Homo sapiens: one gene and its partners. The protein of the gene in region 1 purifies or fractionates together with the protein of each later gene. This does not show direct contact. Each region holds a gene or a part of one and is shown in the gene's direction. Other genes may lie near its edges.

Region 1 (3,998 bases):
GAGAGGCCTAGGCGGGAGGATTGCTTGAAGCCAGGAGTTTGAGATCAGCTTGGGCAACACAGCAAGACCCCATCTCTACAAAAAATACAAAAATTAGCCAGGTGCAGTGGTGCACACCAGTGGTCCCAGCTGTCCAGCTATTTGGAAGGCTGAGGTGGGAGGATCACTTGAGATCACGCGTTGGAAGCTGCAGTGAGCTATGATCATGCCACTGCGCTCCAGCCTGGGTAACAGAGCAAGACCAAACAAACAAACAAACCTAAAAAACAAACCAAAAAATCCTGCCCTGTAATTTACCAGCTGTGTGAGCTAGAGTCACAAGTCTTACTCTGTTTTTCCACCTGTGAAATGGGGACCATTGCCTTCTCAGATGTGGTAGATGACAGATGGGTCAAAGGGGCCAGGTTTCCTGGAGTGTCTGCCTCCTCTGAGCTTCTCCTGCTGCTCCCCAGGAGTGTGACCACTCCAACAACGACCGTCTAGAGGGGGCTGAGATCGAGGAGTTCCTGCGGCGGCTGCTGAAGCGGCCGGAGCTGGAGGAGATCTTCCATCAGTACTCGGGCGAGGACCGCGTGCTGAGTGCCCCTGAGCTGCTGGAGTTCCTGGAGGACCAGGGCGAGGAGGGCGCCACACTGGCCCGCGCCCAGCAGCTCATTCAGACCTATGAGCTCAACGAGACAGGTGGGGGGGGTGGCACGGCCAGGTCGTGGCACCTGAAAGGGCTGTGTTCCCAGCTAAGCGGGTTCTGCTGCGGGCTGGCGCGGGCATCATCTCGGGCAGGTTACCTCACCTCCTCCAGACTCAGCTTCCACATGTGTAAAATGGCACAACAGTTTGTCTTCCTCCCAGGGTCTGGTCGAAGGTTAAGTGGCATGACTTACATGGAGTCTAGTCAGTAGATTGTCTAGTCATTATTCCTAAGCTGAGTGGGCCTTGGGGGCATTGGAAGCTGGACATGGGGGATCCCTATGTGGCCTGATGCCCTCTCCTGCCACCCCTGCAGCCAAGCAGCATGAGCTGATGACACTGGATGGCTTCATGATGTACCTGTTGTCGCCGGAGGGGGCTGCCTTGGACAACACCCACACGTGTGTGTTCCAGGACATGAACCAGCCCCTTGCCCACTACTTCATCTCTTCCTCCCACAACACCTATCTGACTGACTCCCAGATCGGGGGGCCCAGCAGCACCGAGGCCTATGTTAGGTACTGTAGCAGGGGGTGAATGTTTCCGGGAGCCCCACCTGGGGAGAGACATGGGCTGGCTTCCTGGGGCCTTCCTGGCCCAGCCTGCCTGCTGCCCTGCTCTGTGGCACTCTGGCAACACCTTGCCCGTCCACCCATCTGTCCACACACAGGGCCTTTGCCCAGGGATGCCGCTGCGTGGAGCTGGACTGCTGGGAGGGGCCAGGAGGGGAGCCCGTCATCTATCATGGCCATACCCTCACCTCCAAGATTCTCTTCCGGGACGTGGTCCAAGCCGTGCGCGACCATGCCTTCACGGTGAGCCCCTGGGATGCCCAGCCCCAGCCCCACAGCCTTCCCAATGACCTCCGTCCGCACTCACATGCCAGCTGCCCTCCGTCCTTCCAGAGGAAACCCTTGCCCAGAGAATCATTCATTCACCAAGTGCTGCTGGGATAAGTGGCCAATGGGGTGGCATAAAGCTGAATGAGATGCCACCCTCATATTTGGGAAATATGTTCCCTCTCTCATATTTGGGAAATGTCCTAAAAATCACAGAGTTTCCAGAAGAAAACCTTTGGGGGAGGGAAGGACATTTTAATCATGACTTCCAAAGAATAAATAAGCTGTAAGAGAAGCTCACCAGTGGCATCTGCATAAACACTGCAACTTTGGTCACAGTGTGCAAATCTTCCCATCAGCAAATGATGGGAGGAGAGTTTTCACATCACTGACATAGTCAATGTCATTCACATGTAAAAAGCATTTATGGGACCAGGTGCGGTGGCTCACACCCGTATTCCCAGCACTCTGGGAGGCTGACGCGAGGATCACTTGAGGCCAGGAATTCCAGACCAGCCTGAGCAAATAGCTACATCCTGTCTCAACAAAAATAAAAATTAGCTGAGTGTGGGGGCATGTGCCTGTAGGCTGAGTTACTCAGGAGGCTGAGGTGGGGGGATCACTTGAGCCCAGGACTGGAGAACACAGGGAGACTGACTGTGCCACTGCACTTCAGCCTGGGTGATGGAGAGAGACCAAAGCATAGACAACAACAACAAAAAATCGGCCAGGCGTGGTGGCTCTCACCTGTAATCCCAGCACTTTGGGAGGCTGAGGTGGGCAGATCACCTGAGGTCAGGAGTTTGAGACCAGCCTGGCCAACATGGTGAAACCTCATCTCTATTAAAAATACAAAAATTAGCCGGGTGTGGTGGCGGGCGCCTGTAATCCCAGCTACTTAGGAGGCTGAGGCAGGGAGAATCGCTTGAACCCGGGAGATGGAATTGTAGTGAGCTGAGATTGCACCACTATACTCCAGCATGGGCGACAGAGCAACACTCCATCTCAAAGAAAAAAAAAATAATTCCTGCAGCCGCCCTCAGCCTCCTGGACAGTCTGCTGCTTCCCTGGGTTCTCCAGAGCCCTGCCTTTGCCTGCCTGTCCTGAAGGGTCTGGGAGCCAGATGTTGGGAGATACTGGCAGAGGGAGGGGAGTGGCTCTGAGCTGCTGCCCTTCCCCCCACAGCTGTCCCCTTACCCTGTCATCCTATCCCTGGAGAACCACTGCGGGCTGGAGCAGCAGGCTGCCATGGCCCGCCACCTCTGCACCATCCTGGGGGACATGCTGGTGACACAGGCGCTGGACTCCCCAAATCCCGAGGAGCTGCCATCCCCAGAGGTGACGCCCCCCAGCCCCTAGCCTGGGTGGAGGGAGGTCTGGTGGGAGTCCGCCTCCCCGCACTGCTCGTGCCACCTCTGTGGCTCAGGACCCCTCACCTCTTGCTGCCTTAACTTTTCTCTGTTCCTCTGTTCATCTGAGGTCTGCCATCCCCTGGTCTTGTCCTTCTGCTGCCCTCTGGCTCTCCATTCTTGACTAGACCCCCCCACACACACACCCTCTTCTGTAACCTGGCTTTGCCCTGCTGGCCCTGTGTCCCTGCCCGTAGAGTCCTGCAGGCTCTGCCATTCCCACCTGCAAGGCCCCGCTTGACACTTTCTCCACCTGGAAGTCCCTTCTCGGCCATCCACACTTGCCAAGCGTCACCTGCTTAGAATTCAGCTCAACTTCAGCCGCCTCTTCCTGTGGCCTTATCCACTTCCCCAACTCTCGGGCCTGAGGCGGCCTCCTGCTCTCCCCCAGACACCAGAGCGCGTCCTCGGCTCTCTCCAGACATTTATCCTGTCGGGCTCCTTGAGAAAACTCTCCTCCTACTTCCAATCCCCAACATGCAGGCAGGGTTGACTCACCCTCGTGTGTGTGTGAGATGTGATTTTTGTTATTACTGTGAAAATCACACCCGTATGGTAAAAGAAAACTGAGCTGTACTAAGGGACGCGATGAGCAGTGCTCCCCTCCCTCCACTGACCTGTCCTCTTTCACAAGAAGTAACCATCTCTAACTTTCTTGCATGTCCTTCAAGAATTTCCCCACACACATTACCTGTGTACATATGTGTACTGTCTTCTCTTTTAAATGGTACCAAAAAAGGACATGTGATTCCAGGTTGTAGCCTCACTTCTTCCACGTAAGATCTTCTTTGAAGAGGGTCCCTTTCCTTTCAGTCCTGAGCTGTCGCGTGCATTGTAGTGGCTGCTGTGTATATTCTGATGTTGAGGGACCTTATTAAGCATCCCTTCCTGATGGCCTCCCGGGCCATTCTCCACTCTTTCCTATTAGAAACATCGCTCATCTCTGTGTCTCCTTTCCTGCCTCCCACCCCTAGCCAGCCCCTCACAAGGCGGTGGTTGAATAACTGACTGACTGGCTGCCACAGGGGCGAGAAGGCCTAACCCTTCATCCTCCACGTTGGCC
Region 2 (3,998 bases), on another chromosome or scaffold:
ACTCCTGGGCTCCAGGGATCCACCCTCCTCAGCCTCCCAAATTCCTGAGATTACAGGCATGAGCCACCACGCCTGGCCACTAGACAGCATTTTAGCACTACACTTGGAGGCCATTTTAAACAGTGAGGTCACCAGCAAATTTACATCTCTATATGTACTGTATATAAAATGTTCCTAGATTCATATATTCCATGCATAAGTGTGAGCCACTGTGCAGGGTTAAAGGATTTATTCATGATTAATGACTAGATAATGGGTGGCAAATGGTGGAGGACAGGAATATAAAAGGAAAGATTGTTTTTTGGATATGAAGGGCTTGAAAACGTTGCAAGGTATAAATACCTCAAAATTGGGACTCAGAGAAAACTCTTGAAGTTTCTGCTTAAATGAGTGATCTGTGTAACATCAGAACAGATACTATGCTGAAATCTGCGTGCAATAGGAAAAATTCTAAAATTTTCAGTGATACTTTTGTTTTATGGAACACTTAACACAGATCATTTAAGGTTTTTGGTATTTTTTTTTCTTTTCCTGTTTGTTTTTTGAGACAGTCTCATTCTGTCATCCAGGCTGGAGTACAGTGGCACTATCTTGGCTCACTGCAGCCTCTGCCTCCCAGGTTCAAGCAGTTCTCATGCCTCAGCCTCCTAAGTCAAGTAGCTAGGACTACAGGCGCACCACCACACCTGGCTAATTGTAGTTTTAGTAGCAACAGGGTTATTACCATGTTGGCCAGGCTGGTCTCGAATTCCTGACCTTAAGTGATCCACCTGGCTCGGTCTCCAAAAGTGCTGGGATTACAGGTGTGAGCCACCATGCCCGGCCCATTTTAAGTTTCTCATATAAGTTTAAGATACTGTTAATGATGTCTGTGCAGTGATGTACACAGCTTTAGTATTTTTTTAATCAGTGTCTTAAATTAGCATTTAGAATGATGATGAATTAATGCCAACGTCTATTCATGATTGCCAATCTGTTTCTTCTTTTAAAAATATTTTAAAAATGTTTTGCTTTTTCAAAAAAACAGGTGGATGGAGAGAGAAAGAAAAAGCCAGAGAGGAGAGCTGGGGTCCACCTCGAGAATCAAGGCCATCAGAAGAACGTGAATGGGACAGAGAAAAAGAAAGGGACAGAGATAATCAAGATCGGGAGGAGAATGACAAGGACCCTGAGAGAGAAAGGGACAGAGAGAGAGATGTGGATCGAGAGGATCGCTTCAGAAGACCTAGGTGTGATGCTCTAATTAAATTATTTGTAGAGGCCGGGCGCAGTGGCTCATGCCTGTAATCCCAGCACTTTGGGAGGGCGGATCACCTGAGTTCAGGAGTTCGAGAGCAGCCTGGCCAACATAGTGAAACCCCATCTCTACTAAAAAATACAAAATTAGCCGGGCGTGGTGGCGCATGCCTGTAATCCCAGCTACTCAGGAGGCTGAGGCAGGAGAATTGCTTGAACCCGGGAGGCAGAGGTTGTGGTGAGCCGAGATAGCGCCATTGCACTCCAGCCTGGGCAACAAGAGCAAAACTCCGTCTCAAAAAAAAAAAAAAAAAAAAAAAAAATTCCCTCTTAAAGTAAGAAAATGGAGGCCCAAACTTCGTGGCTGTCCAAAGGCTGTGTGACCCGTTGGGCATTGGAACCAGTCCAGCCATCTTTGTCAGTCCGTTGCTTTTACCCCTGTGGTTTAGGGCAGTCAGTTTTCTTGCCCTTAAATTATCAAAAGCCCTTTGATTTTATTAGTAGTAGAAGTTCTAGCTTGTTCCCGCTGCCAAAGTGTCCTTGTACTGACAAATGTAGACCAGCAGTGTTCGATGCAATTTTCTTCAAGGAAGAAAATGTGTCTGCTGGCCAGTATGGTAGTCAGCAGTCACATTTGGCAGCCAAGCACTTAGAATATATGGTTGATGGTCCTAAGGAAATATCTCCGTTTTACTTTAAATGTAAGTAACCACATATGGGTAGTGGCTAACGAGTGGGACGGCACAGATCTGGGTGTTCTCATTTGTTCTCCACGCCCCAGGCATCAGGTAAGGTCAGGTTATGAGTTTAAACTGTCTGTTATATTTGTAAACTCTAAGCCCCAGCTTGGACTGGATGTACTTATAATTATCCATTTGGTCTAACAGTAAGAACCTGACCTGTCATTGTAAATGGCTACAGGGATGAAGGTGGCTGGAGAAGAGGACCAGCTGAGGAATCTTCAAGCTGGAGAGACTCAAGTCGCCGGGACGATAGGGATAGGGATGACCGTCGCCGTGAGAGGGATGACCGGCGTGATCTAAGAGAAAGACGAGATCTAAGAGACGACAGGGACCGAAGAGGACCTCCACTCAGATCAGAACGTGAAGAAGGTATAGAGGTTACATACAACTGAAGTATTGGAGAACTGTCGTTTCTGGGGGGGGGGGGATTTGGGTTATTTAATTATATCATAAATTTGTATGAAGGCCAACAATAAGAGAGTTGATATTCTATTTAGAATTCATGATTTTCATACAGTTACTCAATGGTCATGTTGTAAAGTGCACTTATCTCTAAATTCAAAGTACAGTAGTAGACTAAATTGGATAGCAGGCAATATATATAAAGTTTACTTAATAAAAATGAAAAAAATTGTTATTTAAAAGCAGCTTCCTGGCAGATTAAGCACAAAGTAGAAACATTTTCTCTGAAATTGTAACAGAAGTTTATTCTGTTTTAAAATATATGTATTTTTCATTTTTAAAATCCTCATTTTTCTCTTGGTTTTTAAAAATTAATTTTCCATATGTCTTGACATCCTGTTATGAGAGAATTTTTCTCTCATAGCCATAACTTTAAAAACTCCTGTATTTTGTATGGTTAATTTGCTGTTAAAATTCTTCAAGAGCCAAAAATCCTTTCAGTTATAAAATTTTCATTCAGCCAGATTTTTGCCACCTTGTCTTACGGGTTTATACTAACTGTAGTCCTTCCCAGGCTAGTGGTTTCTGCCTGTTTTCAGATTTTGAGTTTTATCTGTACATTTGTATGTTAAAGATTGTCAGAAATTGTATGAGCTTTCATTATGATTTCTGTATTTAACAATACAGAATTTAACAGAATTTCTGTATTTAACAATGATTTCTGTATTTAACAATCTTTAGTACAGGAATTTTGAGTAATTTGAGCCAATAGAATATAGTACTAACTTAATTTTTTTTTTTTAATTAAACTTTTTAGTAAGTTCTTGGAGACGTGCTGATGACAGGAAAGATGACCGGGTGGAAGAGCGGGACCCTCCTCGTCGAGTTCCTCCCCCAGCTCTTTCAAGAGACCGAGAAAGAGACCGAGACCGAGAAAGAGAAGGTGAAAAAGAGAAGGCCTCATGGAGAGCTGAGAAAGATAGGGAATCTCTCCGTCGTACTAAAAATGAGACTGATGAAGATGGATGGACCACAGTACGACGTTAAGTCTCAAGATAATGGATTTAAACTGGTGTCTTAAATAGGTTTGATCACATTCAAGGATTATTATACTTGTGCTTCAACCAATCTAAATTGGATTCTTTAATGTTGTTTCACCATAACACAAAAAGCATGAACTTGTATTAATCCTATATAATAGATTGATCATGCACCATATCCACAGGAGGTTGGAAAAACCATGCCATTTTCTGGAATTTAAGGGTGTTGCATTATTTCATCAATCATTTGTTGACAAAAAAGAAAAACTAAAAAATAAATTTAAAATGTGACCCTTCAGGTATTGAGTAACACCTTTATCTTGGTATAGAACTGATACTTTTTTTTTGATTTTGAAATATCTGATAATAATTTGGAATGAAGTAAGGTTCTGTTAAAATATATTTGAAGACCCTTTAAAGCAGTGAATCTGAAACAATTTTCACACCCTTAAGTGGTTGATACGTACCTATTTTAGGTATTTTGAGGTATTTACCATAAACTAAATTTAGAAATTTTTTAGATTCACTTGAAGTAAACATTACAAACATTGGATACGGTGGGGTTTTCTTTAGATTT
Region 3 (3,998 bases), on another chromosome or scaffold:
GAAACAGCTTCTGACCTAATAGAGTGTTAGGAAAAGGTAGATAACCTTATTCCAAGACAATAGGGTTTAACTTTGTAGTGGTCTCATGTTCATCGTGAGGTTTTATTTTATTTTATTTTATTTTATTTATTTTTTTGAGATGGAGTTTTGCTCTTGTTGCCCAGTCTGGAGTGCAGTGGCACAATCTTGGCTCACTGCAACCTCTGTCTCTTGGATTCAAGCAATTCTCCTGCCTCAGCCTCCCAAGTAGCTGGGATTACAGGTGCCTGCCACCACACCCAGCTAATTTTTGTATTTTTAGTAGAGACGGGGTTTCACCATATTTCCAGGCTAGTCTCGAACTCCTGACCTCAGGTGATTCATCCTAAGGATTTAATGAAAGCTACTTATCCCTAGGGGGAAAATGCACCTATGCAAAGTAATATACAAGGTGATATGTACAAACAAAGGTTATTTTGTTAAGGAGGTTATATTGAGCTGAATGCTTCTCCCAAATAGTCCTGCGTCCTGCTTTTTCTGTCTGGCAGCATGAGTAGATCTGTTTCTTCTTTGACTGGACAACCCTTCAAATATGTGAAATATGTAATCATGTCTCTTTACATGGGATAAATATCCTTCATTCTATTAAGTGTTCTTGGTGCATTTTTTCCCCCATACTTATTTCTGTCTTTATCATCCTCTTTTGGACACACCATTGTCTGTCAGTGTCCACTAAAGTCTTGTCCAAACTAAACACATCTTGGCTGGGCACAGTGGCTCACACTTGTAATCCCAGCACTTTGGGAAGCCAAAGCAGAAGAATTGCTTGAGGCCAGGAGTTTGAGACCAGCCTGGGCAACATAGTGAGACAACTATCTCTACAAAAAAAATTTAAAAATTATCAGGCATGGTGGCACATGCCTGTAGTCCCAGCTACTCAAGAGGCTGAGGTGGCAGAATTATTTGAGCCCGAGATTCAGGCTGCAATGAACTGTAATCACACCTCTGCACTCCAACTTGGGCGACAGAGCAAGACCCTGTCTCAAAAAATGTAATAATAAGGAAAAACAACATGTCCCACATATTGTGTAGCCACTTAGGCACTATGTTTGTCAGGGCTGCCATAACAGACTAGGTGGATTAAACAACAGAAATGTATTTATTTTCTCAGTCTTGAAGGCTGAAAGTCAAAGAACAAGGTGGCAGCAAGGTTGGTCTCTTTTTGTTTGTTTGTTTGTTTTTTGAGGCAGAGTTTCGCTCTTGTTGCCCAGGCTAGAGTGCAATGACGCAATCTCTGCTCACTGCAGCCTCCGCCTCCCAGGCTCGAGTGATTCTCCTGCCTCAGCCTCTGGGTAGCTGGGATTACAGGTGTGCACCACCACATCCGGCTAATTTTTTTTTTTTTTGTATTTTTAGTAGAGGTGGGGTTTTGCCATGTTGGCCAGGCTGGTCTTGAACTCCTGACTTCATGTGATCGCCTGCCTCGGCCTCCCAAAGTGCTGGGATTACAGGCGTGAACCACCGCACCCGGCCTAAGGTTGGTCTCTTCTGAGGCTTTTCTCCTTGGCTTGCATAGGGCCACCTTCTCCCTGTTTTCTCACGTGGTCTTTCCTCTGTGTGTGGGAGTCCCTGGTGTCTCTTTGTGAATCCAAATTTCCTCTTATAAGGACACTAGTAAGATTGGATTACGGCTCACCCTAATGGCCTCAATTTAAATTAATCACTTCTTTAAAGGCCCTGTCTCCAAATACAGTCACATTCTGAGGTACTGGAGTTTAAGGTTTTAACATACAAATTTGGGGGCAGAGATTCTCCCCATAACTGGCTCCGTATCTTTGGGTTGCGGTAATGGGAATATGGAAGGACTTAACTTCTTTTTTTTTACTGTTCAGTGTAAAAATTAATACACAGGAATAAATCAGTTTTTTTTTTTTTCTTTTAGCCAAAATCTGAAGATGAAGAAGGCTGGAAGAAATTTTGTCTGGGTGAAAAGTTATGTGCTGACGGGGCTGTTGGACCAGCCACAAATGAAAGTCCTGGAATAGATTATGTACAAGTAAGGGCTGTGTGGATAAACAGAACAAAAAGCATTTTAATTTTGGTGCACCACTTAATATAAGGGGTCAGCAAACTCTACCCTGGGCCAAGTCCAGTTCATGGCCTTTTTTATATCCATGAGCTAAGGATTGTTTTTAGGTTTTGAAAGAGTAAAAAAGAAACAAATAATATGTGGCTGAGACTTTATGTGGCCTGCAAAGCCTAAAATATTTGCTGTCTGACTCTTGATAGAAAATGTTTGCCAACCCAGACTTAGTTTATTAGCTCTTCAACCTAACAAAACAGCTTAGTTTCTGAAACAATTTACTGTGACTTTTTTTAGTTTGGCTTCATATCCCTTATGTTTGGCTTGGTAATCATTTTATGAGTTGGATAAGATTCATAGTTTTTTTAAATGATGAGGCATCAGGCAAACAGTGTTATGAGTAGCCAGGGAAAAAATGGAAATCGACACAATTAGATGCTTTAAAATGCATAATCACATCTATCACTTCATGGGCCTGTAAAAAATAAATCACATATTCTAAAGATGAAATGTTGAGGATATCTTTAAAATTCATGTGGCTGTAATCATAAGTTATGTAGACAACTCCTTGTCCTTCAGGATTTACCTGCCCCCAAGTTTGCAGGTGTTCCTTGAGAATCCAGTGCATGCCTCTGCATTAGCGCTTACTCCCTATAGCATGTAGTTCTTTTCAGTTCAACAGGTATTTATTATTTGCTATATGGTGCCACATTGTGTTTTTCACATTTAAAACTAATTTTTCCTAAAAATGTAAAAAGCCCCAAGAATCAATAAAAAGACCAAGAATCACCCCTCCCCTGCCCAAGAAAAAATAGCCAAAGGATATAGATACCTCACAGAAAGGAAATAAAATTATTCTTATATGACAAGATGCCAAAAATCACTTGTAATAGAAGTATAACATAACTATGCCAAGGTGCTATTTTTCAGGTAACATATTGGCCAAGAAAGTTTGATACACCATATTGACAAGAGCTGGGGAAACAAGCACTCTTAGACGTGGTACAGGAGTATAAATAGACTCAAATCTTAGGGAAGTTAATTTGGTACTCTTTCTATATAACCAATTGATCTTTTGGATGATATCCTTAACATATGCTACATTTCAAAAATAGCTATATATATATATATATATATATTTTTTTTTTTTTTTTTTTTTTTTTTTTTTGAGACAGGGTCTTCTTCCGTCATCCAGGCTGGAGTGCAGTAGTGCACTCATAGCTCATTACAGCTTCAACCTCCTGGGCTCAAGCAATCCTCCCACGTCAGCCTTCAACATACCAGGGGCAGCAGGCACCCACCACCACACCCAGCTAATTTTTAAATTTTTTGTAGCGATAAGTTTTTTAATTTTTTAAAAAAATTTTTTTGTAGAGAGAAGTTTTCACCATGTTGCAAGGTTGGCCTGAAACTCCTGGGCTCAGGCAATCCTCCTGCTGGGATTATAGGCATGAGCTATCATGGCTAGCCAAAAATGGTTTTTAATTTATAAAGAATTAAAACTTACTTATTTAGCTTATTTTCAGAGAATACATACAAGTAAAATACACCATGTTAAAAAAAACCCTTAAGGAAGTAAGCGTTTAATGTATATCCTCTTAAGTTTCTCACAAATCAGTGGTATTTTCATAATTAGCAATCACAGCCTCAGACTCCAAAGTAGACTTTTAAAAATTGAATCAAATTAGGTTTTAAAAATGTCATTCTAATTCAAGTGTCCTTAATTCTTGAAAATATTAGCTTTAGCTGAAGATTTTGAAATGGTGTATACAACATATTAATGTCATCTTATCAATGTTACAGTTTTATTGGATATACTTAATAAGTTAGTTTTTTCAAGTACTATCATGTAAAAAATTTTTAGTCTTTAACATTTTACTTACTAAAATCATACTTTATTTAAAAATTTACAAATTCAGACCAGGTGAGGTGGCTC
Region 4 (3,998 bases), on another chromosome or scaffold:
CCAGCAGTATACCTCACGCACTGCCTCACCACTGCCCCTGCGCCCAGATGCTCCTGTTGAAAAGTCACCCGAGGAGACAGCTACCCAGGTCCCCAGTCTGGAGAGTCTGACTTTAAAGCTAGAGCACGAGGTGGTGGCCAGGAGCCGACCAACCCCACAAGACTATGAGATGCGAGTATCCCCCTCTGATACTACCCCTCTGGTTTCCCGGAGTGTTCCACCAGTCAAACTGGAGGATGAGGATGATTCGGACTCTGAGCTGGACTTGAGCAAGCTGTCACCATCTTCTTCTTCTTCCTCATCCTCATCCAGCTCCAGCTCCAGCACTGATGAGAGTGAGGATGAGAAGGAAGAGAAGCTAAGTGAGTGCATGTGACAGGCTGTTGGCCCCCTTCCCTATTTCCCCCTCTCTTCTCTTTCCCTTTTCTAAATGCATCCTCTTGAGAGAGATTTGGATTTTGATTTGATAAAATGTCAAAAGAGTGCCATTCTTTGGGCCTTTATTCAAAGCCCATATAATACCATTACCATATGACATTATTCTTCCATCTTTTCTCACACATTCTATGGGCTCTCTTACCAGCTGACCAGTCCCGCTCAAAGCTCTATGATGAAGAGAGTCTCCTGTCCCTCACTATGTCCCAAGATGGATTCCCAAATGAAGATGGAGAACAAATGACCCCTGAGCTTCTGCTACTGCAGGAAAGACAAAGAGCCTCTGAGTGGCCCAAGGTAACAAACAGCCTCATCCCTGGACATGTAGAGTCCAGAAATACAGTGTAACAGTATATCCGGGGAAAAAGGAACATATGGTTCTGGATTTTTAAAATTGTGTTTATTGCTGCAAGTTTTTTTTTTTTTTTCCAGGAAACTTCCCAGTTGACTTAGGAATCTTAATAGTATTAACTTCCTCTTTTCTGCCTTATGATTTTTACCCATCCTGGTAGTGATGGCACTATTGAGTATCACAGGATCACACAGCTAGTACTCAGACTCTTAAAATGGTATTTCTTTCTTTCCCCATTCAGGATCGTGTCCTGATAAACCGTATTGACCTCGTCTGCCAGGCTGTACTCTCAGGGAAGTGGCCTTCTAGCCGTAGGAGCCAGGAAATGGTAACAGGAGGAATTTTGGGGCCAGGCAACCACTTGCTAGACAGTCCCTCATTGACTCCTGGAGAATATGGTGACTCTCCAGTCCCCACACCACGAAGTAGTAGTGCAGCTTCCATGGCAGAGGAGGAAGCATCTGCAGTCAGCACAGCGGCAGCCCAGTTCACCAAACTTCGCCGAGGCATGGATGAAAAGGAGTTTACAGTTCAAATCAAAGATGTAAGCTCAGCATTTGGGCATTGGGAAGTGGGGAAGGAGGCTGGAATCCTTGCTGTAACTAATTTTACTAATAGGTTACTAAACTCATTTGGTTAGCTAATTTTAAAAATGAGAAAACAGAGCTTACAAAGATCCATTTAGGAAGAATCATTTTTCCTGGTTGTTTTCCTTATTGAACCCTATTGATTATTAATCCTATTAATATTCAACAAAAGTTTCTTAAATTAGTATGCTTAGGAATAGCAGGATTTTGCCCCTGTGATGAGTTGCCATGCTAATACGGAGACACCAGGTAGGGAGTTTTACCCTAACTTGGGTGTTGTTGAAATAAACTCTTTCTCGTAAATGCTGAGGGGCACTAGGTGAAGAAGTGAAATCTTTCTAAGGAAAAAGTGTGTATGTTTTCTTGTATTTCTAATTTTACCCTTTAGTCAGATGGCCTTCCTTCTCACCATCATTGGGCAAGAGGATGACCTATAGCCCACATCCCTCAAAGCTTAATCTTTACTTTGAAAAACATGTACCATATGATGTCTTGGGTGGGTGGGTTGTCTTCCTAGGAGGAAGGATTGAAGTTAACATTCCAGAAGCACAAGTTGATGGCGAATGGAGTAATGGGAGATGGACATCCACTGTTTCATAAGAAGAAGGGGAACAGAAAGAAGCTAGTAGAGGTGAGTGGTAGAGAAAGTCTTTAACCTGACGATTAGATTGTCTTTTTATTCCCAATAATTGATGAAGGCAGTGGGACTGGGGGAATGGAAAATACTAGAGTCATTTCATGACTACCATTGGCCCTGCTCCCCCTCCCTCCCTCCCCCAAAGAAGAGTATGTGCTCATGGGGGTGGATTCTGGGTTTGCAGCTGGAGGTGGAGTGCATGGAAGAGCCTAATCACCTTGATGTGGACCTGGAGACCCGGATCCCTGTCATCAATAAGGTGGATGGTACTTTGCTGGTGGGTGAGGATGCCCCTCGCCGGGCTGAACTGGAGATGTGGTTACAGGGTCATCCAGAGTTTGCTGTTGATCCCCGATTTCTAGCGGTGAGTGGCAGTCCCATCCAGCAAGATTTAAAGTCATTCCTTTGGTATTTAAGCTGCATGAGAAAGAGAAAGCATGACATACTGTATCATCGTTTCTGTATCTGCAAGATAAGGGTAATAATTAATAATACCCAGTCTTCCAACCTCACAATTGTTGTGATGCCCAAAATAAAATAATGTTGAAGTACTTTAAGTGCTAGGCAAATATTTACTATTGAACTATTATATAAACCACCTAATATTTTTTGGAGAGATCCCACTTAATGGCAGTTTTCCACTAGGATGAATCCTTTATCTATGTAATAAGTGTTTATTATCAAACAAAAGACACTAGTACTTTAATAATTACTCCAGAGAAGATTTCTATTCCTCTAGGATAACTGATTTTTTCTATTGCAGTATATGGAGGATCGCAGAAAACAGAAGTGGCAAAGATGTAAAAAAAATAATAAGGCAGAATTGAACTGTTTGGGAATGGAACCAGTACAGACAGCTAACTCTAGAAATGGGAAAAAGGTGAGAGAAATTGCAGCATTACCACTCTATTCCCACACTAGATGTGAGATTACAAGTCTTTCAATGATGATTGTGACTAATGTTATTTATCTTTTTTCCTATGTTTGTTTGTGTGAAGAATTATCTTGAGTTCACCAATAAGGAAACCGGAGTTTTCTGGGGTTTTTTTTTTTTTTTTGAGACGGAGTCTCACTCTGCTGTCGTGCAGTGGCGCAATCTTGGCCTACTGCAACCTCCGCCCGCCGGGTTCAAGCAATTCTCGTGCATCAGCCTCCTGAGTAGCTGGGATTACAGGCACCTGCCACCGCGCCTGGCTAATTTTTGTATTTTTAGTAAAGATTGGGTTTCACCATCTTGGCCAGGCCGGTCTTGAACTCCTGACCTCGTGATCCACCCGCCTCGGCCTCCCAAAGTGTTGGGATTACAGGCCTGAGCCACACTGCACCTGGCCCAGAGTATTTTTATCAGTATTTTTGCAGTCCTGTGGTATCTTCATCTCTAGGAGAGCATAACATTCTAAAAACTAACTTTAGTACTTGATGCATATGAAAATTTAAGAATTAGTAAGATGGGTTAGAGAGAACATTCAGATCTTACTCTGTTCTTCTATTGAATAACTAAGGGATTTTGGACAAATCCTTTAACCTCTTCAGTTTTTACATCCTGAAAAGTGAGGGTTTTAAAGCAATTTCTTAAGTTTTCTGTTTTTTTGAGACATGGTCTCACTCTGTCACCCAAGCTGGAGTGCAGTGGCACCATCTCAGCTCACTGCAACTTCTCCCTCCCCTGGTTCAAGCCATTCTCCTGCCCAGCCTCTCAAGTAGCTGGGATTGCAGGCGTGCACCACCAGGCCAGGCTAATTCTTTGTATTTTTAGTAGGGACGAGGTTTCACCACGTTGGCCAAGCTGCTCTGGAACTCCTGGCCTCAAGTAATCCACCCGCCTTGGCCTTCTGAAGTACTGGGATTACAGGCTTCAGCCACCGCACTCGGCCTTAAGTTTTCTAATTCTATATATTTTAGAAGTGTTTGGAGAGGTCTTCTAAGGAAAATAGTCATGAGATTTCCCAATATATAAAGGTTGAGAATCACTAATAATATGTCAGTA
Region 5 (3,998 bases), on another chromosome or scaffold:
TTTCACAATAGCAGCAAAAAAAGCTAAACTAAGCCTAGGAAGGTGGGGTTGCTACTAAGTGAAATGATGGGTGAAAAGAATATTAGTGGAGAGACCTGGAATCTAAGCATGTACTGGGGATCTGGTATTAATTGTTATAAGATTTTGCCAGATATTCTTCATTGGAGAGATTCTAATTCTTTATGTTTCATGATTCCTTAATCCCTTTTGATAGAAGATAGATCCAGAGATGGGTTGAAGAGAAACTCCAGTGAAATGGTCTTTTAGGAACTCAGGAGCTGAGTTCTAGTTCTCTACAAAAGTAGAGAACTTACGATTTCTTTATAGGATTATAACTAGTTTTTAATATTAACACATAATTGCATGTGTGTAATCGTACATGCAACGTGTTTTGTACTTTTTAGGTTGACAGGTATTCACATCCTACTAAATGATTGTTTAAGTTAAGCTATTTTGCTAATAGCGACCTTAGAATATCTTATAGTTCCTAATGTTACCTAATTTCATCACAGGCAATTTGAGTATAGCTAAAAGCCAAAAGAACATATTTCCTACAACCATTGAGTTTATACATTAAGAAATTGAATCATGGAATAGGCATTTTTAAAGTCATTTGGAATTTGATAGCACAGGAGTAAATAATTTTTATTTTTATTTAAATTCACATAGAGTAGCATGTGGTAACCCAATATTTTGATACTTGAAGTGGTTTTTTTTTGAGATTCTATTTTTATTATTAAATGTAATTGGGTACCGCTGTGCAGTCTATGTAGTCTAGTTTATGTAGTCCAGTAATTTTTTATAACTATCCAAGCAGTCAAAACTTAATGAAAAAAAGTTAAACTTAGAAAATTTTTTCTGGACTTCTTGAAAGTCCTTCCTATTGTTGAGACATGCGCTGCAGCAGGGCTTTCATGTCTAAGTTAAAACATAGCATGGAAATGTGGCCTAAAAGAAATTTGTGAGTAAATAAAATTTGGTATATACTTTAATCAGATGAAAGTGTAAAAACTTTCATATTATTAAAATAGTCTCTTGTTCCGTTAACATGAAAAGGAGATTGTATATTTATGTATGCAAGTCAGAAAATCTCTAATAAAGTAAGCAAGTGAGCTGCAGAACACTAGTCATGAAAGCCCAATATACAATGAAAACAATGATTGCTCAGCTGTGAAAATAATTTTTGGAGTCAAGTAAAATGTTAAGCTTGTTAGCGTTTGCTTATTAAGTAGGTTAATGCTGTTTAGAAAATGACCAGTTGCAAAGACAAAGACAATGCTGAAGTGAATGTTTGCATGACTTGCTTTTAGTTTTGCTTGCTCCTTTCTGATTAAATATTTTTCCCCCTCCTAAATGCAGGGCTTCAGATAACAGGGAGCGTGCTTATGAACATAGTGCCTATGGACACCATGAACGGGGGACGGGAGGATTTGATCGGACAAGACATTACGATCAGGATTACTATAGAGATCCTCGAGAGCGGACTTTACAACATGGGCTCTATTACGCTTCTCGGAGTCGAAGTCCAAATCGCTTTGATGCTCATGACCCCCGATATGAACCTAGGGCTCGCGAGCAGTTTACACTGCCCAGTGTGGTACACAGGGATATCTACAGGGATGATATTACCCGGGAGGTACGAGGCAGAAGGCCAGAGCGGAATTACCAGCACAGCAGGAGTCGGTCACCACATTCATCCCAGTCTAGAAATCAGTCTCCTCAGAGACTGGCTAGCCAAGCATCTAGACCCACAAGGTCCCCTAGCGGCAGCGGCTCTAGAAGTAGATCCTCCAGTAGTGATTCAATCAGCAGCAGCAGTAGTACCAGCAGTGACAGGTAGGTTAACAGCCTTTTGTTATAACAGATGAGCTAGCTTTAAACAAATTCTCAACAATCAGTGGGAATGGTTTCAGCATAGTATTATTTTTTAAAGTAATCTTGGATCATATATGTATGTAATCAGTAAAGAAACTGGCATGTGGCCATTGAATTAACTGTTCTAAGTACTCGAAGTTAAGTGATGATTTGCAAAGTTCTGTTTCATCCTCCAGATGCACAGTATTAAAATTAAATGATCAAAGTGGAAGGGAGGTGGTGACTCTAGCTGTGCAAGGCAAATCTTGTGACACTGAAAATATGGTATCTCTTTAACATTTTTAATTTTGTAGGTGTATAATACCAATTTATTTCTATTATTTTGATTGAAGATTTGTAAAAGCTGTTTGGTTAAATATGTATTGGTGAAATATAATATTGTTGACACATTTATTATCAATGACTAGATCAACTTATGAACAAATTTTAGCTAATTTTAACATCAGGGTGGTAGCCAATTTATAAACTCAAGTAGAAAAGCTTCCTTTGAATGCAGGTTGTAACTTTACTGTTCTGTAAACTGATCTCACTAGTTGAGAATTTCTTTCTACAAATATATATATATATTTTAAAGACAGTCTCACTGTGTCACCAAGGCTGGAGTGCAGTGGTGTAGCCTTGGCTCACGGCAACCTCTGCCTTCTGGGTTCCAGCAGTCCTCCTGCCTCAGCCTCCCAAGTAGCTGGGATTACAAACGTGCGCAACCACGCCTGGCTAATTTTGTATTTAGTAAAGATGAGGTTTTGCCATGTTGGCCAGGCTGTTCTTGAACTCCTGACCTCAAGTGATTTGCCCACCTCATCCTCCCAAATTGCTGGGATTACAGGCATGAGCCAGAGTGCCCAGCCAAAAAGTTTTATTTGAAAAGCGAAAATAGTAAGTTGAGGGTAATCTTAATAAGAAACTTAGCTTCAAACCTAGTTATATGGATTTTGAAATCACAGATCTGGGTATGTGGTATAGATTATCCTTTAAGTAATCTAGGATAAGTTATTTATGTTCTTCAGGTCTCAGCTTTCCCTTTTTTTTTTTTTTTTTTTTTTTGAGATGGAGTCTCGCTCTTGTCACCTAGGCTGGAGTGCAATGGCGTGATCTTGGCTCACAGCACCCTCCACCTCCTGGGTTCAAGTGAGTCTTCTGCCTCAGCTTCCCATGTAGCTGAGATTACAGGCACCCATCACCATGCCAGGCCAATTTTTGTATTTTTAGTAGAAACGGGGTTTTACCGTGTTGGCCAGGCTGGTCTCTAACTCCTGACCTCAGGTGATTCACCTGCCTTGGCCTCCCAGAGTGTTGGGATTACCAGTGTGAGCTACTGCGCCTGGCCAAGCTTTCTCATTTTTAATAAGGACCTTAATAAAGTTATTGTGAAAATTAAAATGAACACTTAATGTAAAATGCTTACTTTGATACCTAGTATATGTTAAAAAAAATGCTGCTATTCAATTTGTTAATCCCACATGTCCTGCTTTTCAATTTAGGTGGTATATATTTAAAATTTACAGTCAAATTCTTTGACCTGATTAAAAGGCTCAGATTACTTTTCTTTTGCCTGCTTAAAATTAATTTAAGCAAATGGTCATGTAGTTGAATGTCTGTTTTTAGGCTTCCTGAATTTTCTTATTCAAAATAATACATGAAAACATTTTGTTTATCCCTCTGCCTATCTAGATATAATTCAAACATTCTGGAAGATTTGCATATTAAAATGAAACAAGCACCTAGTTTAGAAAGTCATGAAAGTTACGTTCTATGCCCAGCTTTCAAGCCGTGTGACATGGATGAAAACTCTTAACTTCTTTTGATTTTATTTGGTGTGCTGTCTAGATAAATGATTGATGAAATTCATTTGAACCCTATAAACTAATTATAAAATCTTGTTCCACTTTTTTTTCTGCATAGAATTGTCTAAAATGCTCAAGTTTTAGTCATTTTCCATAAACCTACCTCATTAAAAAGCTGCATCTGCATTCCACTGGATCAAAACTTATTGAAAAGGTGTTGAGGCACTGGGCGTGTGGCTCACTCACGCCTGTAATCCCAGCACTTTGGGAGGCTGAGGCAGGTGGATCACCTGAGGCAAGGAGTTCGAGACCAGCCTGGCCAACATGGTGAAACCCTGT
Region 6 (3,998 bases), on another chromosome or scaffold:
TGCTTTTATCTTGAATCAGGTAGTATGGAAGTTCCAGAATCCCCTAAGTTGGGTGGAATGACCAAGAAGGGATATGGGTGCCTCCTATGGAGCTGTATGAGGAGAAGTGGGCCGGCCTGAGCCTTGCTGTGTCTTAAGTTGCTCTTTACAGTTTAGCTCTCAGGTGTTAGTCAATCTAAACTCTACACTCAGAGGCTAATGGTTATTTAAAATATTGTTAAATTCCTCTTTTCTACTCTGGATTAGCCAAATTGCTTATGTGAACTTGGTCAAGTTTTCCTGTAACATACCTATTAGTATTGGCTCATGCCACATACTGTCTATTGTATGGCTTCCTGTTATCTACTGCCTGTGATGTTGTTTTACTTAAAACTTTATAATGATTTCATTATAGTTGTGGCTCATAAACACTTCAGAACCTAGGAACAGTCAACTAAAATACTATGCTTTGCTTTTGTCCAAGAATTTTGAATGTCACTTATATTTTAGTTCAAACCATACTGCACAGACCTGAAGTTGGCAAGGAATTTTTCCACTGAAATTGTTTTTCACACTTAGGAAATGGATTCATGCTATCTAGGAAACAAATCCCTGGGAAACAGTCTGTGTACCAGGTTGCAAACGATGATTATTTTACCTTGTATTAATGGATACACAGGAAACTTAAAAGATATTTTTAAATCTCTGACCAAATGAAGAATTGGGTTTGTGTATATGTGAGAGAATTAAACTTGTGAATTGTTTTTAAGACAATTTTAAGTGAAAGTAAGACTACAATAATATATGTCATGTAGGCCAGTAAGAGTGGTGCTGAGTGCACCTCTTCTGTCCTTCACAGTTCTTACTGGACGAGGTCTACTGGATTTATCTAAACCTTTTCAAAGCAGATGTCTTGCTATTTTCTTAAAGTTTTTTGCTTTTACACTTTTTTAAAGCTTTAAATTTGTGATGCTATTAGTGTTATTTCATAATACATTGGCATTTTAATAGTTTTTAATGTCACTACTTCTTTTTAGAGTACACATATCTTCAGAATGGTGGTGCCCTGATAGGTGAGCTGTTTTACGCCTTAATGAAAATTAATGAAAGATTCAGTGCTGTACTGAAATCATAAAATGTGAAGAGCATTTACTATCAAAAATCAAGAACTGAGGATGTGATAAAACAGCCATGTTCAATGCAGTTGGTATAAATTGGTCCAAGCTATTTAGAAAGCTATTTAGTAATTTCCATTAAAACTTTTATGCCTTAGTGTTAATTATCGTACTTTCAGCTTCAATACCTCCACTCCTTACAAATCAATTTTTAGGAAGTCTGAAGTATAGTGATTTATATATGTTTATCATGGCATCATGTATTATGTTGAACAAATTGGAAGCTGCCTAAATGTCCTACAATAAGAAAGAAGTTAAGTAAGTTGTCCTGAGTCTGTAAAGGGGTGTTTTATGATAGCTAAAATTATACTTACAAAGAATATAACATGGAACAACTTTAGGTTTTTAAAAGGGGGCAGTATACAAAACTACAGTATGGTCTTAAAGAAAAAAATAACGTATTATAGAAAAAAGACTGGAAAAATCTATACTGGCATTGATCATGGTCTTATCTCTATAATATACATATATTATCTCGCTTTTGTCCCCCAGGCTGTAGTGCGATGGCACAATCTCGGTTCACTGCAACCTCTGCCTCCTGGGTTGAAGTGATTCTCTTGCCTCAGCCCCTGAGTGGCTGGGATTACAGGTGCCTGCCACCACACCCGGCTAATTTTTGTATTTTTAGTAGAGACAGAGTTTCACTATGTTGGCCAGGCTGGTCTTGAACCCCTGACCTCAGGTGATCCGCCCGCCTCACCTCCTAAAGTGCTGGGATTACAGGCGTGAGCCACTGCGCCCAGCCAGAAAATATATTTTTTAATTCACGTATTTTGAGAAGAAAGTACAATTTGAAACCAAGAAGTTTCCTTTCATTATTCTTAAAACGTTTTCAGAAGTAAAATATGTGGTTCTGCTAAAAGCAGTTCTTTTAGTTAAATGTTAAAGGCTGCACCATCTTTGTGTTTTTTAAACATAAATAACTTCTACTTTATTAGTTGTTAAATTAGAAAAAGTCTGTAATTTTACAAAATTCCTAACACTGTGGAAACAGCAAAAGTGATTTAACTCCTATTGAAGTCAGAAGCTTGCTTTTATATTTCCCATCTGATGATTCCAAATGTATACAGTTTTCTCAAAAGTTACCAATTATAATCCTTTTCTGTGTACTTTACAAGTTAAATGAGCAATAATTTAAAAAAATCATAATTTGCATCGAGTTGGTACCATCAAAATGATTTGAATTTGGTGAGGAACAAACTTGTTACTATTGTTTCACATTCATAGAAGGGAAATCTGGAATGAGCGAGTGCATTTTAATCAATATATGAAGACTGAATATGTAAAAATGACATAAATATAACTAAAAAATTATTTTATTGCCCTAACACTGACAAAATTACCTTGTTCTGGCAATTATCAGTGGGATTTTTAAAAGAAAACACTGCTGACTTTTCAAATAGTTATTTTACATGTTAAAAGAGGCCTTTATGTTTCTATTACAGATATTCGAGATATTTGGACCTGTTGCACATCCATTTTATGTGTTACGGTTTAATTCTTCAGATCACATTGAGAGTAAAGGTATTAAAATAAAGGAGACTATGTATTTTGCTCCATCAATGAAAGATTTCACTCAATATATATTCACAGAAAAACTAAAACAGTAAGTACTTTACCGGCATGTTGTTCTTCACTTACCTAACGTTTATATTTTAAGAATAATTCTCAGTGATGTAATTTCTTACAGTTATATTGTGTGTGTCTTGCAAAGAGTTCATTTATCTTCCTAATAATATCTTTGAAGCCTACAATTTATTTTCAGATTTTGTACGTAGAATTCATATCTTTTGTAAAAAATGAGATGATCAGCCATTAAGAGCACATTTGAGCCATGTACACTTTCTGATTCTAGTTCAGTGTTTTTTCCATTATGTACATTCTTTAATGTACTTACTATTTTAGTATTAGTACTAATATTATTATCATTTCTTAATAACTTTTTTTTCAGTTAAGTAAAATTCTCTTTGGATTCTATTTAGGGGCCTTGCTCTTCAATAAAACTTTAAAATAGTTTTCAAGAGAAAAAAAATGAGTGTTATCTCTTTATTTTGCTTATAAATTTTAAGTTTGTAGAAGAGACAACTAACACGTGTCCCTGAAAAATTGTGTAGAAAGTTACGGTGTATGGAGTTGACCTAACCAACAAACCAGTGCTCTCCATTTTGTCTATCAATAATGCTAAGTGATTTCTGTGGCATGTGACCGCAATATTTTTTTATATTTGTGCTCCCATTGGTTGAATATTTTTCAAATGTTAGCTGTTGCCAGCTGTTAGTTGTAGAGCTGTTTGTATCAGCTAAACTTGTTATAATTATGTTATTTAATTTTTTATATCAGCAAATAGCATATGAATTTAAGATTTTTTTTTAATAAAAATAACTTGAATGCTTTCGAATGATGTAATGAATATGAGCCACTAAAAATATTTTCAAATTGGGAGTGGAAGAAAAGACTGCCAAAGACTGGGGGAAGGTTAAATCCAGAAAGACTTTGCACTCAGTTTGACACAGAAGTTCCTTTTAGTTCTAGCTCTTCTTTTATTGGAGACTTAAAACCTAGGCGATACATTTTTATAGATGTTGTTTTTGCAGGAAAACAAAGGAACTTTGGTCACTGAGTAACTTTGGTATTATGTCAAAGGTACCAACCCCAGTTGCATGGCATAAGAAGATTACTTATACCACTTACATGTTAAATCAAGTCTCAAGTCACCAAATTTCATTTATTTCAGAGATGAAAATTTTGATCCTGATAATTGATTTAACTCATGTTTAAGAATCTACATAAAGATCTGGAGGAATATTTTGCCTAAGTTATTCTTCACATTGCATAAGGTTATTT
Region 7 (3,998 bases), on another chromosome or scaffold:
TTGGTTCCTGGTGAGAACTCTCTTCTGGTTCGCAAACAGCTGCCTTTTTGCTGTGTCCTCACAGGGTGGAAAGAGAGGGATCTCCTACATCGCTTCTTATAAGGGCATGAATCCCATCATGAGGACTGCATTCTCATGATCTAATTACCTCCCAAAAGCTCATCTCCAAGTGCTATTACATTGGGAGCTAAGGCTTCGACATATGAACACCAACATTCAGTCCATAACATACCCAACAGCCTAATAGGTATCCCTACTTGACTGTTACACAGACTCTTACAATGTCAACAGGTTTAAAACTGAACTCATCTTCTTACCTGCAATCCTGCTTCTCCTGGATTTTTCCTATAGGATGCCATTCTCCATTCAGTCACCTGAATCAGATATTTTAAGACTCATCCTGCACATATCCCCACCCCCGCCCCCACCACAGACAAGCAAACCCTGTGCTTTCTGCCCCCTGACGATCCTTCGAATCCATCTCTTCTCCATGTTATTGCCATTGTCTTCACTCAAGCCCTCATATTTTCCACCTAGAGTATCACTTTCTCTCATTGCTGCTGGATCTATCCTCCATACTATATCTAGAGTGAAATTTTGAAGGATGAAAATGTTTTGGTATTACTTGCTTTCAGTCCCTCAAGATAAAATGCTGACTCGTCCTGGTCAGGTCCCTCCCTACGGGACCACTTGCATTGCCTGACATGCCGTGGACTTCCTGCCTCTGTGCCTCTCTGCCCCTGCCCCCGCGCCCGGCCAAACCTGACAAATTTTCTGATTCCACCTGGGCTTCTGGCGAGGCCCTGTCCAAACCCTCTGTGTCTGGGGCTTCTTAGTTCTTGTTATTAGGATCTCCAGGGATGGGAAGTAGATAAGCAGCCTTCTCCTGCAGCCTGTTCTCCTGTTTTGCTACCCTGTCACTACATTACTTACTTTGTCAGTATTTATGGAACACTTTCTCTGTGCCAGAGAAACATTTTTAGGAAACATGAATGAGACACAGCCTGGCCTCAAGTCTGTAAGGGAAGACTGATGGCCAGGCACATCCAATATCATGTGCTAAGTGCACAGAACACTGCAGTAGCCCAGCTTCTCCTGATCACTGATAGAAATTTCACCCTGCTTTTTCCTGTACAGGCATGGAGAACCAAACGCTTAGTTCCCAGCACCACCCACCTACCGACCCTCCATCTCTCAGGCTAAGCACCCAGCCATCAAGACGGTCACTTCCAGGTGCAGGCTGTGGTAGAAAGCAGGCTGCTCCCTGTGCTCCCCGCCTACTGGCTGACCAAGGGGCAGAAGAGCTTCCCCTTCCCTGCCCCCACTAGCTGCAGTCAGAACCATCTTTTCTGTTAAACGCCTTTGCAGCCCTCCACAGGACTGTCTCCTCAGCTCCTGGAGTAGCCAGGAAGAAAACCAAGCCCACTGTTTACTTTCTAAATGCCAGGCTTGTTTCCCTTGATGACTTGTGTAGGTTTGCATAGGAAAACTTCTTAGAACAATTTGTTCTACAAGGCAAGCACTCAAATGGCCAAGGCCTGGTTGCCTGGGCTAGCTTCAGCACTGGGGCATCAGCTCTGTGTCTCCTGCTTTACATCCACCTGTTCCATTTTATAATTGGTGCGTGGTCTCTGAAAACTCATGAGAAATCTTATTTAAAGACGGCAGTAATTAACCTAATTGCAAATATAGAAAATGAAAATATTTCCTATGAAATGCCCAGGAGTTGTCAGATGTTTTTACAGAATCCCAGAAATAGGATCAAGGAAGGAAGATAAGTAGGAAATAGCAGGGCTTTCATACATTGGTATTAAGCAGTATGCTGTGCCTGTGGTTAAATATTAAGTAAAGACATGGCCATTGTCTTCAGTGGAAAGGAAGAAATGTGGGAAGTAGAAAAATTAGATAAGGAAGCATGGAAAAGCAGCCACCCCATCTCTCTCCTCCTCCCCGTGCCACTTCCTGCAGGCGTCTTCCTGGCTTCTGCTGTTGGTGAGAGGATCAGGCTCTGAGGGCTGGGAGATTGATACTGTGTTAAAATGCAGCCTCACATCTCCCTGCCTTATTCCTCAGTCATGGAACCCTACCTGTCCATCTAACTGAGCTTCTAATTCTGTAGTTAAAGAAACATGGCCCAGAGAGTGAGGGGATTTGCTTCTTGTCCAGCAGTTTATTGGAGGCCCAACCTCCTCATTTCTGGACCCCCGGGCCAGGGCCCTTTCCCTTGACTGCTTCCGTTCCTGAGCTGCGATGACATGGAGATGATCAGCATCCCCTTCTTCCAGTGTACCTTGTCAATATATTCCTGTGAACCTGGCAAAACTTTTACATCCAGGCTTGAGGAAGTATTGCCTTTTTTTCTGGACTTTGAAAAGATACTAAGATGAGAACATCTTACTGGGCTGGAAATGCACTTTAACGTACTTGAGTGAAAAGATGTGTGAAAATGTTACAAAGCCAGTGGCATCCCTAGGCTCAACATGCCTGAAAGCTAAAGTATTAGGAAAGGAGGACTTTGTTCTCGGTGTTTTCATTCTCTTCCCTCCCTCCCCTGTTGTTCCTGCAGGCCGCCAGCTCACTGGAGCCGAGAGGGCCTCCACGGCCACTGCAGAGGAGACTGACATCGATGCGGTGGAGGTCCCACTTCCAGGGAATGATGTCCTGGAATTCAGCCGAGGTGTGACTGATCTAGATGCTGTAGGGAAGGAAGGAGGCTCTCACACAGGCTCCAAGGTAGGCAAGAGATGGCCCATCTGTGTGATCTGCACACGTGTGCCCTCAGGTCATCAGTCACTTCCTAGCCCCTGCCAGCTCAGCTTCCGAGTGAGGCACTCCATGGCACAGTGGCGGTGCCAGAGCGCACTTCATTGCCTTTCAGAAGGTCTGACTTCCAGAGGGTCTGAACACTAGATGCTGCTGCAGGCCAGGATGCTGTGGAGCTGATTCCTGACACACATCGCCCTCCCCAAATCCCACCAATATTTGGTCTCCTACTCCCTGGCACCCTCTTCCCTTAACAGCATCTCATCTTTGCACAGTATTTTGCAAGGCTCACTCTGGCACACACACACACAGACTCCCCTGTGACTTAGCTAGTAGAGCAAAGTCAGTTTGGGCCCGCTCTGCCTGCAGTAGCGGTGGTATACCGTTGGTAATTCCTGTGGATAGCACTTTGGAGTCTGGAAGTTGGCCCACTGGATGTCAGAAACTGAGAGACCACCTTAGTCTTCATCAGCTCTAACCTAACATCATATAGGTGAGATGACTGTGGCATCTGGGGGTTCCTAATGTGATCCAATTAAGAAACTAAGAACTTGAGATCAAATTCCAACCTGAAGCCAAAGCTAATTAAAAATGTTTTAAACCCAGAAGCAAAATTACTGACCAATAGCTCTACCCTTAGATTCCCAGGCGGTTTATATCAGGGCACCTCTCTCTCTTTAACATTCATATCTTATCTCACATGGAGGTTTGGAGGGCAGTTCAGTTCTAAACTAGCTGCCTGACGTTTCCTTTGGAACCAGTTTATCCTCTACAAGTGGAAACAGCCCTGTGTCACTGGGGGCCTTCCTTGTGTATGTCTGAAGAAGTCCCCACAGCAGAACTGCCAGAAACAAAATGTCTTTCCCTGCCATGGAATTCTATGAATCGTAGAAGCCATCTTGGTAAAAATGTCCACAGGAGAGGGAGACAGAAGGAAAGGAGGGAAGGACACAGGAACTTCTTTCATCTAAGAGGATCTCTCCAGATCATTATATATTTTAGGATCCAAACTTCTTTGCCGATGGTTCTCACCAGAGGCAGTGGAGGGCAGGAGGTAGCCCCCTCACATGGCCCCTTCCTCCAGGACCCAGCTCCACGCTTCTCCCAACAAGGGAGAAGGAACATCTCAGACCCTGGAGGAGGGAGCCCTAAGGACACAGCAGAGTAGAGGATTGAAGCTGGGTCCTTCCTGTTATCATGGTAGGGTGGATGGAAGCTACGTTTTCCTAAAATAG

What was found.
Region 2: the proteins of PLCD3 (region 1) and EIF3A purify together in Homo sapiens (affinity purification with mass spectrometry; one large-scale study listed by BioGRID and IntAct). This does not show direct contact.
Region 3: the proteins of PLCD3 (region 1) and GEMIN2 purify together in Homo sapiens (affinity purification with mass spectrometry; one large-scale study listed by BioGRID and IntAct). This does not show direct contact.
Region 4: the proteins of PLCD3 (region 1) and CHD8 purify together in Homo sapiens (affinity purification with mass spectrometry; one large-scale study listed by BioGRID and IntAct). This does not show direct contact.
Region 5: the proteins of PLCD3 (region 1) and SPEN purify together in Homo sapiens (affinity purification with mass spectrometry; one large-scale study listed by BioGRID and IntAct). This does not show direct contact.
Region 6: the proteins of PLCD3 (region 1) and NAF1 purify together in Homo sapiens (affinity purification with mass spectrometry; one large-scale study listed by BioGRID and IntAct). This does not show direct contact.
Region 7: the proteins of PLCD3 (region 1) and NOS1AP purify together in Homo sapiens (affinity purification with mass spectrometry; one large-scale study listed by BioGRID and IntAct). This does not show direct contact.

Annotation. Positions count from the first base shown.
Region 1 is NC_000017.11:45,115,498-45,119,495, reverse strand, and holds part of PLCD3 (1-phosphatidylinositol 4,5-bisphosphate phosphodiesterase delta-3), read left to right. Parts: intron 1-452; coding exon 453-681; intron 682-1,003; coding exon 1,004-1,205; intron 1,206-1,357; coding exon 1,358-1,502; intron 1,503-2,711; coding exon 2,712-2,864; intron 2,865-3,909; coding exon of another isoform or gene 3,910-3,939; exon of another isoform or gene 3,940-3,987; intron 3,988-3,998. UniProt on the Homo sapiens protein: Hydrolyzes the phosphatidylinositol 4,5-bisphosphate (PIP2) to generate 2 second messenger molecules diacylglycerol (DAG) and inositol 1,4,5-trisphosphate (IP3).
Region 2 is NC_000010.11:119,035,469-119,039,466, reverse strand, and holds part of EIF3A (eukaryotic translation initiation factor 3 subunit A), read left to right. Parts: intron 1-1,027; coding exon 1,028-1,229; intron 1,230-2,157; coding exon 2,158-2,348; intron 2,349-3,198; coding exon 3,199-3,428; 3' UTR 3,429-3,998. UniProt on the Homo sapiens protein: RNA-binding component of the eukaryotic translation initiation factor 3 (eIF-3) complex, which is required for several steps in the initiation of protein synthesis.
Region 3 is NC_000014.9:39,120,509-39,124,506, forward strand, and holds part of GEMIN2 (gem-associated protein 2), read left to right. Parts: intron 1-1,921; coding exon 1,922-2,035; intron 2,036-3,998. UniProt on the Homo sapiens protein: The SMN complex catalyzes the assembly of small nuclear ribonucleoproteins (snRNPs), the building blocks of the spliceosome, and thereby plays an important role in the splicing of cellular pre-mRNAs.
Region 4 is NC_000014.9:21,389,840-21,393,837, reverse strand, and holds part of CHD8 (chromodomain-helicase-DNA-binding protein 8), read left to right. Parts: coding exon 1-362; intron 363-583; coding exon 584-732; intron 733-1,028; coding exon 1,029-1,331; intron 1,332-1,584; exon of another isoform or gene 1,585-1,687; intron 1,688-1,891; coding exon 1,892-2,005; intron 2,006-2,031; exon of another isoform or gene 2,032-2,195; coding exon 2,196-2,375; exon of another isoform or gene 2,376-2,428; intron 2,429-2,774; coding exon 2,775-2,891; intron 2,892-3,998. UniProt on the Homo sapiens protein: ATP-dependent chromatin-remodeling factor, it slides nucleosomes along DNA; nucleosome sliding requires ATP. Acts as a transcription repressor by remodeling chromatin structure and recruiting histone H1 to target genes.
Region 5 is NC_000001.11:15,874,843-15,878,840, forward strand, and holds part of SPEN (msx2-interacting protein), read left to right. Parts: intron 1-1,359; coding exon 1,360-1,836; intron 1,837-3,998. UniProt on the Homo sapiens protein: May serve as a nuclear matrix platform that organizes and integrates transcriptional responses. In osteoblasts, supports transcription activation: synergizes with RUNX2 to enhance FGFR2-mediated activation of the osteocalcin FGF-responsive element (OCFRE).
Region 6 is NC_000004.12:163,138,985-163,142,982, reverse strand, and holds part of NAF1 (H/ACA ribonucleoprotein complex non-core subunit NAF1), read left to right. Parts: intron 1-2,599; coding exon 2,600-2,760; intron 2,761-3,998. UniProt on the Homo sapiens protein: RNA-binding protein required for the maturation of box H/ACA snoRNPs complex and ribosome biogenesis.
Region 7 is NC_000001.11:162,352,621-162,356,618, forward strand, and holds part of NOS1AP (carboxyl-terminal PDZ ligand of neuronal nitric oxide synthase protein), read left to right. Parts: intron 1-2,566; coding exon 2,567-2,733; intron 2,734-3,998. UniProt on the Homo sapiens protein: Adapter protein involved in neuronal nitric-oxide (NO) synthesis regulation via its association with nNOS/NOS1. The complex formed with NOS1 and synapsins is necessary for specific NO and synapsin functions at a presynaptic level.